Linked DNA regions of Homo sapiens. The protein of the gene in region 2 interacts with the protein of the main gene of each other region in a pairwise test. Each region holds a gene or a part of one and is shown on either strand. Other genes may lie near its edges.

Region 1 (4,949 bases), on a different chromosome or scaffold from region 2:
TTGTGACCGCCACCGAGCAGGAGGTCAAGGTATAGGAGCTGTGTTCCAGGCCTTTTTCTGGGCCACCTTGTCCCTGGGGCTGCTGAGGAAGCTGGTGGAGGTGTCCCCTGATGTGGCGACGGTGCAGCTGGGTACCCTGGCTGCTGCTGCTGCTGCCACCAGGGTCAGGAAATGGAAGGCCAGGCTTCTGGGCCTCTGGCACCTTCCAGGCACATCCTTACCCTCCCACCAGTGCTGTGCTGTGCTCTGAAGGGCTCAGCCTCACTGCTGTGTGAAGGTGCAGCCCAGGGAGTGGCAGGAAGAGGGCGTGCACACACTGTCTCCCCTCAGAGGATGTTGGGGGCTGGGGAGCCACAGACAGGTGGGACAAGCCAAGGACTCCGATCCCGTGGGTGGGGAAGTGGGTGGTCTCAGTGTCTGTTGAGGGACTATTCATCATGTACTGGATATCAGTCTCCAAATACTATGCTACAGGGGCCAGTCGTTCAGTTAATCCAATAGTGGATGGCTGAAAAACGAAACATTTGTTCCATAAACATTTTTTGTCCATTTTTTATTGAGATACAACTTACATAGCATCAGATTCACAGAATTCACCTTTTAACACGTAAAATTCAGTGGCATTTAGTGCATTCACAGTGTGGTGTGGCTGCCTCCACTGTAACCCCAGAACATTTCATCCCAGGAGCCCATCCCGTGCTGGTGTCCCTTCTCCCCAGCAGCAGGAGGAGGGTGACCACGTGTGTGGGGTCCCAAGGAGGCCGTGTTCTGGTTGTTTGCCGACTTCGGCAGCTTCTGACACAGGCCTCTTCATTCTCCTTTATCTTCATTTGAGTTAACAGCACACAGGTAAGAGTCAGAGACATTTCTAGGTCTTTGTAGGTGTGCACGTGTGACATGTCTTATCAATGCAGACCCACCATGTGTGCAGGGGTGGCCTGGGCCCTGCTGGTTGGGTGTCCAGCTCCTTGCTTTTCCCTCTTTCTGTTTTCCCCCTGCGTCCTTCCAGCTGCAGCTCCCATGAGCTCTAGAGGTCACAGCTGCGTTCAGCTGATGGGGAGGAGGGCAAACCCCTCCCCTAAGGGCCCTTCTCCAAATCCCACTGAAACCCACTGGGCAAAGCCAGTCTCTGCCATAGCCAGCTGTGAGGAGGGCCGGGAACCGTGGACTTCACCCGTGTCCGTGTGCCCACCAGAGACTGACTCTGTCACTGAGGGCAGAGGGAAGACGCTGGGTCCAGGCCGGGCTCTGCTGTTGGGTGGGGTCCCCTCCCAGGGCGTGGTGCGCGTAGCTCCCTGGAGAGCCCCTGGGCCACCTGGGGCAGGAGGTGCTTCCTAAGCCCCCAGAGCTCCCAAAAGGGGCCTGATGGGCAGAGCAAGGCCTGCTCTCGGACAACCCCCGAGTCCACTACCGTCCCTCGGGTCAGGGCCAGCCTGGAGTGCCAGGAGGCCATGGGCATCGGAGGGTTTGCGCCCAGTTAGTTGGGCAACATTGAGCCCATGGGCCTGGAATAAGTGGTGACCTGCCCCGTCCCTTCTAGGAGGACATAGCAAAGCTGCTGCGCTACGAGTCCTCGGCGCTGCCCTCCGGGCAGCTAACCAGCCTCTCAGAATACGCCAGCCGCATGCGGGCCGGCACCCGCAACATCTACTACCTGTGCGCCCCCAACCGTCACCTGGCAGAGCACTCACCCTACTATGAGGCCATGAAGAAGAAAGACACAGAGGTGGGTGAGCGGTGGGTGGGGCGGGCTCCGGGGGCTGCAACCTGGGGAGGGTCTTGACCTTCTCAGCTCTGTGCTGGGTGAACCTGCCCAAGACTCCGGGCAGGGCTGCACAGTGGGTCAGGGTCACGGGCACAGAGGCCGGACCGACTGTGACGGCTGTTTCCCACTTGGAGGTCACATGTGGTTTTTTTTGTTTGTTTTTTGTTTTTTTGAGATGGAGTCTTGCTCTCTCGCCCAGGCTAGAGTGCAGTGGTGCGATCTCGGCTCACTGCAACTTCCGCCTCCTGGGTTCAGGTCATTCTCCTGCCTCAGCCTCCTGAGTAGCTGGGACTACAGGTGCACACCACCACACCCAGCAAATTTTTGTATTTTTAATAGAGACGGCATTTCACCATGTTGGTCTCGAACTCCTGACCTCATGATCTGCCTGCTTTGGCCTCCCAAAGTGCTGGGATTACAGGCGTGAGCCACTGCACTCAGCCACATGTGGATTTCTTTATGCGTGGAGTGCTTCTGCCTTGAAGGCAGTCAGAGCCTTCCTTAGACCCAGGTGTCGTAGTAACTGTCATGCAGGCCTAGGAACCCCAACTGCCCCGGTGTTCCCCAGTGTGGCCCGCTTGGCTCCCCCAGCCCTCCTGCCGCCCTCATCCTTTCTTCTGTGGTGGCTGGAGGCCCCCGGGGTCTGATGGAGCTGCTCTTGGCCACCTGCAGGTTCTCTTCTGCTTTGAGCAGTTTGATGAGCTCACCCTGCTGCACCTTCGTGAGTTTGACAAGAAGAAGCTGATCTCTGTGGAGACGGACATAGTCGTGGATCACTACAAGGAGGAGAAGTTTGAGGACAGGTCCCCAGGTCGGCATCCCCTGCTCTCTAGGCGTGGGGCTGGTTTCCACTCCCCGCACGCCTCTCCTGCCCCGCAGCGAGGGCTTCCTTTGGGTTTTCGTCAGTTGACCTGGGCTCAGCCACCCCCGAGAAGAGCCTTGTGGGAGCACCCTGGTGACTGGAGGAAGGTGCCTCCTGGTTTAGATATCAGGGGTCTGTCCAGTGCTCCTGCCACGGTGGCTTCTGGAGCTGGCCCAGCTTCTTGAGAGGCTGTGTATTTTTTTAAAGCCCTAACCAAGTTGTATGGGCCTCAGGCAACCTGAAGCATCCTTTGAGGTTTTACTTTTAGATGAAAAGCATCTTGCTAGCTTGTGTCTCCATCCTGGTGGGAGAGGAGGTGGGAGCTGGAAGCATGCTGCGTGGCCCCCATGGAAGCCGGGGAGTTGGGATGCAGGCCTGAGCTCCCTGTCGCCTGCTCTTCCGCAGCCGCCGAGTGCCTATCAGAGAAGGAGACGGAGGAGCTCATGGCCTGGATGAGAAATGTGCTGGGGTCGCGTGTCACCAACGTGAAGGTGAGGCTTTCCCGGGGATGGACCACCACTTGGCCGCAGTGTCCCTAACAGGCTGGCCAGCTGGTGGCTCCCAGTACCTGGCCCGTTGGGTGTCCTTCCAGCAGCAGCAGAAGCCCTTGGTGTCAGGTGGAGACCCTGTGGGTCCCTGCTCGGCACGTGTTGCTCGGGAGTGCCGCTGAGGCAGGAAGGCCGTGTCTTTCTCCCAGCCCTGCTCCAGAGCAGGTGTGAACTGAGAACTGAAAAACCAGCATCCTGAGTGGGAGCTGCAATGGCTGAGGACGTGGGGGTTCCAAACAAGGGACATGCTACCCCAGCCCTCAGGAGCTCACATGCTCACTTGGGTGCTTAGTCGGGGGTTTTGGGTGGGCTTCAGAGAGCTAAGACTCCCCCCACCAACCTGTCTAGCTCAGAGTGAGAAATGAGCGTCCCATGCATGGTCACTTGGAGGAAGGGGCCTCATGCAGGGTGGGCTGGCATGGAGCAGAGGACGATGGATTCGGGCAGCTCCTGGAGGCAGCAGCGGGGCACCAGGGTGGTGGAGCCCCTCGGGCACAGTATCTTTGCGTGGGGCATCAGCTCAGGGCCCACAAGTTAGTGGGTAATGGGGAGGGAGCAGCGCTGGTCCAGGGGAGTCCTTGAGACCCCGCCTGCTACCTCGTGGTCTGGGTGACCTTCACCCCTGGTAAGATCCTGCCAGCCCTCTCACATTGGGAACCTCTATCACCCTCAACCCCGGGCTTTGCTCACAGGTGACCCTCCGACTGGACACCCACCCTGCCATGGTCACCGTGCTGGAGATGGGGGCTGCCCGCCACTTCCTGCGCATGCAGCAGCTGGCCAAGACCCAGGAGGAGCGCGCACAGCTCCTGCAGCCCACGCTGGAGATCAACCCCAGGTGAGGCCACGCTCCTGGCTCTTCCAGCCTGTGGGATTCCCCAGAATCCTGTGTGTGGTGTTCTTTTGTTGTGGAATGTGACACAGAAGAAAAGTGCGTGAGGCCTGTGGACATGTGGGTAACTATAAGGAGCTGTATGCAGTTTAGGCTGCACCCATGTGAAATGGAACCTGGCCAGCCCCTTACCATCCCCAGGTGTCACCTGGGAGGTTAGCCACATCCCAGCCTGTGACCATGTCCTCGTTTTGCTTTATGGCTTTGCCACCTGTGCGTGTCCTGGACATGCTCAGTTTTGCCTGTTTTGAGCTTTGTACGTGGATCTTGGTGTTTGCTGAAGTCTCACGTTGCTCACTTGGCATGAGGGTTGCCCATGCAGAGGGGCTGCCACAAGTTCATTTTCATAGCCGAATAATGTCCGCTGCAGAAACCCACCTCGGCACAGCAGACTGCTCCGTTCTGCTCTGCTGGGCCTCCGGTGGTTCTTGGTCAGAAGTTGTGGAGAGCCAGGCTGCTCTGAGTATTCTTGTCCACGTGTCTGGGGCTTGTGTGGGTTTCTCTGTGGCCCCGGTGGTGGGAGCTGCTTCCAGGGTGCACCGAGAACCCCCCAGCCCTGACAGTGGCTGAGCCGTAAGATTTCCCTCGTTTCTTCCTGTTGTTCTTTATATGCCCTTTATCTGTTGTAAATGTCTTTTCACCTGCCTTTAGGTATCTTTTGAGTTTCTTTCTTTTTACAGTATCACTTCTTTGCACCCATGAATGTGATCTATTTAGGTCTTTAACATCCTTTGGTACCTTACATTCTCTGTAGGGTTCTGGTACCATTTTTAAAGAATTATTCTTTGATGTGTCTTATGGGGTATTTTAAAATTTCATTTTCTAACTTGTATATGAACTAACTTGTATATGAAGTTTCTTTTTTGGGGGAAATTTTGAATG
Region 2 (5,737 bases):
CCATCTCAGGAAAAGAAAGAAAAGAAAAGGTCTTAATTTCTTTTCAAATCATAAGAAAAAATTAATATAATCCATCCCAAATTATATTCATCCTTATACCAACACAGCTGTAAAATATATATTTTTTTTCTTAATGGAGGAAGGGGCCCAGGAAGGCAAAAATGCCTAGGGCCCACGAAAGTCATAATGTGGCCCTGACATGAGGGTGAGAGTGAGGGTGAGCCTCATGACCTCTGCCTCCTGAGCAGGTCTTCCAGACACCAGCTCAGCAACTAGTGCATGCAGCATCCTGCCCGTTAATATCCTCTCCGTATTGAGCAAACGTGAAGTGGTGGGCTGCGGGAACCCAGCAGTGCTGGATCCCAACCCTGTGGTTTAAGGACATCCAGCTGAGGCCCTGAAGCAAGGGGAAGAGGCCTGAATTAGTGTGCAAGAGAAGGAGGAGACCCCTCACACCCAGGAATTGTAAAGACTATGCCTCCCCCAAATGCCACCTCCTTCTACTCTTACCTGAAATCCCACTATTATTTACTCCTTTGAATTAAGACAGCCGTAATATAGTGAAAAATGCACACATTTTGTAGTTAAAACTGGCTTGTATTGCCATTGGCAAGTTGCCTGGCTCTTTGGGCCCCAGTCTTCTGTATTTTTTTTAAAAAATGGGGGATGATAGGCCGGGCGCGGTGGCTCACGCCTGTAATCCCAGCACTTTGGGAGGCCAAGGCGGGCAGATCACGAGGTCAGGAGATCGAGACCACGGTGAAACCCCGTCTCTACTAAAAATACAAAAAATTAGCCGGGCGCGGTGGCGGACGCCTGTCGTCCCAGCTACTCGGGAGGCTGAGGCAGGAGAATGGCGTGAACCCGGGAGGCAGAGCTTGCAGTGAGCCGAGATCGCGCCACTGCACTCCAGCCTGGGCGACAGAGCGAGACTCCGTCTCAAAAAAAAAAAAAGGGGGGGGGATGATAATGGTGGTTATCAAGGCGAAAGTAAGATAAATCGTGTACAGTGGCAAGCATAGGGCCAATTATTAGCAGGCTTTTAAAAATTTTTTTAATTTTTTTATTTTTTGAGACAGGGTCTACTGTCGTCCAGGCTGGAGTGCAGTATCCTGATCATGGCTCACTGCAGCCTTGACCTCCCGGACTCAAGCGATCCTCCCACCTCAGCCTCCCTAGTAACTAAGTCTACAGAGTTATTTTTATAATATTACGGATATTAACACGTCCTGGAGAACCTGCAAACACTTATTGGAGGGAGAACCATACAGCCTTCAATCATAGCCCAGGACTTTTAATGTGATACATCACTATGGAGCAAGAATTCAGGAAGATAGTTCTAGAAAAAGGGAGGGGGAGGAGGAAGAAGGGGTAGTGGGGAAGGCGGGAACTCTCCCAGGTCCACAGCACAAACCCGGGGAATACGCGCGCTTTAGGAGCCTGCAGAACGGGCTTCTGCAAAGCGCGCTGCAATAAGAAGCGCAGGAACCTAGTACAGCAGACGTTTCAAGTGCCGCGCATCAAAAGACGGGGCCCCCGTAGTGTAAGCATTCTTGGATGCACTATGCACTTAGCAGATTTCTATACTTGCACTCTGACATAAGTTCATTACTAAAAAGCTTAAGTCCTTGGAGCTTTCTCAAAAAGCACGTTGGGTTTCTTGCAGCGTGCACCTGAGCAGCGGACTGCTCTTCAAATTCAGCCCCAAATTCCCGCTCCCGGAATGCACGGTGGGTTCTGAATTCAAAAATCCAGAGCAAGCAGCCTTCTAGCCAATCATTGCACCTTATCACTATCCTGACTTTGGCGCGAACTGTACAGAACTAGATAGTCCTATCCATTTGTCACTAATTTCTAGCAGGGGAGAGTCGTGCTCAGAACCCAATTGCATGGTAGACTAACAAGTTCACTTTCGCATGTTTGGGCTGCTGAACTTTCCGCGCTTTCCTCAACGCCATCTCTCGGTCTTTTCCGTGGGGGAAGCAAAGGGCATCGCTCCACCCAAGTGCTGCGGGGTAAAGACGGTTGGGCGGAGGAACACTGCCAAAATACCTCTCCACGGGCTGGTGCGAGGTCTCACCCCGCCCCCTCGCCCCCTCGCCCCCTCGCCCCCTCGTCTCCTCGCCCCCAAATCGGCTTTCACAACCCAGCCGCTTTTTCCAATCTGGGTCTCTGCTCAAGTTGGGAGTAGTTAGTTAAGCAGCAATTTGGGGCCACTGTTCCCCGCAAAGCATGTTCACTACCTGCACCATGCTTGCGCACGCTCGCCCTATTTTTCGTACGCCCTGGACACGAATGCGTCCCCCGGGGGTCGCACTCACAACTAGATGTACTGTGAATGCTAATAGGGGGCGTTTAACCGACGCGTGTGCATACGCTTTGAACCTGCGGAAGGCACCGTACCGCTATATAGGGCGCGCAAGTGCCAGACGGCGCCAGAAAGAGGTCCCGGCGCCAGAAAAGCGCTCGCCCGAGCCATTGGTCCCAGAGCCAGTTCCAACCCCGGGATCGCCGCGGAACCACGCACAGAGTCTGCAGAAGTGCACAGCTTTATCGACAGCGCTTGAAGCATGGAGTCTCTTCGCGGGTACACCCACAGTGATATTGGCTACCGCAGCCTGGCAGTCGGCGAGGACATCGAGGAAGTGAATGGTTAGTGCTTGGACAGGGACGGGAGCTTTCGCGAACTCCAAAAGAGGAATTTTTCCCTGGGAGAGGCAAGCGGAGGAGACGCTGCGCGGCTGTCGCAGTTGCTCTTCCATAGCGGGTCCCCTGCCTCCTCCAGCCCACGCGCCGTGGGCTCCAACGCCCTGGTGTCTCTTTTGCTTTCCTCCCTTCCCAGATGAGAAACTTACCGTGACCTCGCTGATGGCAAGGGGAGGAGAGGACGAGGAGAATACACGGTCCAAACCTGAGTACGGAACAGAAGCGGAAAACAACGTTGGCACGGAAGGGTCCGTCCCCTCGGACGACCAAGACCGTGAGGGTGGCGGCGGCCACGAGCCGGAGCAACAGCAGGAGGAGCCGCCCCTGACCAAGCCGGAGCAACAGCAGGAGGAGCCGCCCCTGCTCGAGCTGAAGCAAGAGCAGGAGGAGCCGCCCCAGACGACCGTGGAGGGGCCACAGCCGGCGGAGGGGCCACAAACCGCTGAGGGACCACAGCCCCCAGAGAGGAAACGCCGCCGCCGCACCGCGTTCACGCAGTTTCAGCTGCAGGAGCTAGAGAACTTTTTCGATGAATCTCAATATCCCGACGTTGTGGCGCGGTAAGTGGCTTGCCCCGGAGGCGCCCAGTTCATCCCGGGACCCTTTCACCGGAGCTAAAAGCCACGTAGGGGGCTCACGGGCGCTGCCTCCGCCCTTGGTTTTTGGGGGACGTGGTGGGCGGGGCGCGGAGGATGTAAAAGACTGGGGCGGGACTAGGGTAAAGCGAGTGAGGCAGGGTGGGATCCCGCCTTTATTTAAAATTTTGGCAATTTGCTCACCATGGGTTGTTTTTGCATTAATTTTGATACGTTTTAATATTGCATTAAAATATTATTTGTCTTGATTATCGAGTTTTTTAGCGCCATTTACATTGTGCGCGCGTGGCGAGCGCCTCACTCTTTTCGCCCTAGTAACCGCCCTGCCACGTGGAGCGCACTTTTACAACCAGGGGGCGGACTTTTGAGCTTTCGGTAGCCAGCGACCCCTTTCCTTCGCTAGCCTCATCGGAGCCCTCCTCATACCGACCCGTAGTGTACGAAGGGGCAGGCCTTTTCTGGCCAGGCTGGAATGGGGGGCGGGGGGCACCTGGACAGGTCAGAGTAGGGTTAAGGGGACCTTTCTGGCTTCGTTGTACTTAGCCTTCGCCCGGCAAAGAGCAAAAAAGAATTTCCCTAGGGCGCGCTTGGCCGATGTGGTTTGGAGTTCCCTCCCTGAGAGTTCACCTCTCCTTTTTACGATAAACAGAAATACTGTGGTTCAATACAGCGCTTTAAAGGTGTTTTGGCATTTAATTTTTTTTTGTTTTTTTTTTCACGGACGGACTTCCCAAGGAAAGATTTCCAGGGTTGTTCTCTGCTGTTTCACAAACAGAAGAATTGAGTCATATTCAGCTAACAAACCATCGGGCGCTTTTACATATGTTTCCTTTTTCTATCTTATTTAACAGCGAAGTTGTTAATGGGAAAAACCTCCCTAAAGCGAGTCCCAACCGTATTACAGAAAACTGCACTGGGAGGTGGGGGAGAGAAATAATGTACATTCATATATATATATATATATGTTTTTTTTTTGAGACTCACTCTGTCGCCCAGGCTGGAGAGCGGTGGCGCGATCTCTTCTCGCTGCAGCCTCCACCTCCCGGGTTCAAACGATTTTCCTGCCTCAGCCTCCCGAGTAGCTGGGATTACAGGCATGTGCCACCATGCCCGGCTAATTTTTGTATTTTTAGTAGAGACAGGGTTTCACCATGCTGGCCAGGCTTGTCTCCAACTCCTGACCTCAGCAACCTCTTCGGCCTCCCAAAGTGCTGAGCCGAGCCACGTTCATATTATTGCATTTTATCCACAACTCCAAATACTGAATATTTGTAATTTTCTCCCCTAAGAGAGAGACTTGCAGCACGCCTGAATTTGACTGAAGACAGAGTGCAGGTCAGTAAATCTTGAAAAAGCAATTTGGCAGGACAGCCATTCTAAAGCATGCTTTAGGTTTTGTCCTGGACATTCTCAAGCTGGTGTTTTCTGTTGTCTTTTCCATGGTTGACAAATAAGTTTTGAACAGTAGGGGCTTTAGTGGTAGAAAATAGGATGTGTAAACTTCAGATTATGGAAATTGCTCATAAACAGAGGAAATATGATTTCCTAAAGGAAAAAAAGATGTGTTTTCATCTTCCTTCTATATCTGTATCTGTCTTTCTCTCCATATAGTGTATGCACATGTATATGTACATATACACATTTACGTACACATATATGCACATGTATACACATACATACATACATATATCCCAATAAATAAGATTAACCTTCTTCTAACACTGGTATCCTCTAGGGAGAATGTTAGTTTTCCCTAAAGGATTACTTCTATATGGAGTCATGTTCGGGGCTCAGTCTCACCTCGGAAGTATTCAAATTAATGCACAGAATAGCTCAGTTTTATAAGAAGGTTCACTGTACTAAATTATTTAAAATATTTAAAACCTAGCACAAGCACTTAGCTAAATGAGTGAATTTATATTTAGGCATTGGAGTGAAGGAGTAATTCACACACAGAACACAGTACTAAAGTAGGGAGTGGCAGCCCTAAATTTTAATTTTTTGGGAAGATTTTGATGTCAGCCTGAAAACATTGCTAACATATTTCAATTAAGTGGTAATGGGGAAAACATTTGTAAGCTTTGGAAAACTGTCTTTAAAAAATGAAACAAAAAAAGAAAGAAGAATTTGAATAAAATTCCCTTACCTAAGAAGGGTGGAAAGATTAGAGAAGAATTGTATACAGTCAAACACATGCATTGCAGATGTCACACAAATTCAACTTTATGAAACTACCAAATGCATAAGAGAATGTTCGCTTTTTTGTAAACACCTTAGAAAAAACATCTTAGATGTTTTATTCTTTTTGGTGATATTATTTTGAAAAGGTGGGTTTTCTGGAATTTGATTGATTAGGGGGTTCTCTCAGTTCAGGCAAGATTCTTACCTGTGTTGATTTAAAATACCTTTTCATTTACTCAGGCAGTTATGACTAA

What was found. The genes of interacting proteins can lie anywhere in the genome.
Region 1: the proteins of ESX1 (region 2) and TRAP1 interact in a two-hybrid assay, tested with the Homo sapiens proteins (one large-scale study listed by BioGRID and IntAct).

Annotation. Positions count from the first base shown.
Region 1 is NC_000016.10:3,661,051-3,665,999, reverse strand, and holds part of TRAP1 (heat shock protein 75 kDa, mitochondrial isoform 1 precursor), read left to right. Parts: coding exon 1-29; intron 30-538; exon of another isoform or gene 539-1,540; coding exon 1,541-1,726; exon of another isoform or gene 1,727-2,437; coding exon 2,438-2,576; exon of another isoform or gene 2,577-3,032; coding exon 3,033-3,118; exon of another isoform or gene 3,119-3,354; intron 3,355-3,867; coding exon 3,868-4,013; intron 4,014-4,949.
Region 2 is NC_000023.11:104,251,683-104,257,419, reverse strand, and holds the start of ESX1 (homeobox protein ESX1), read left to right. Parts: upstream 1-2,486; 5' UTR 2,487-2,570; coding exon 2,571-2,652; intron 2,653-2,842; coding exon 2,843-3,266; intron 3,267-4,591; coding exon 4,592-4,637; intron 4,638-5,737. UniProt on the Homo sapiens protein: May coordinately regulate cell cycle progression and transcription during spermatogenesis. Inhibits degradation of polyubiquitinated cyclin A and cyclin B1 and thereby arrests the cell cycle at early M phase. ESXR1-N acts as a transcriptional repressor.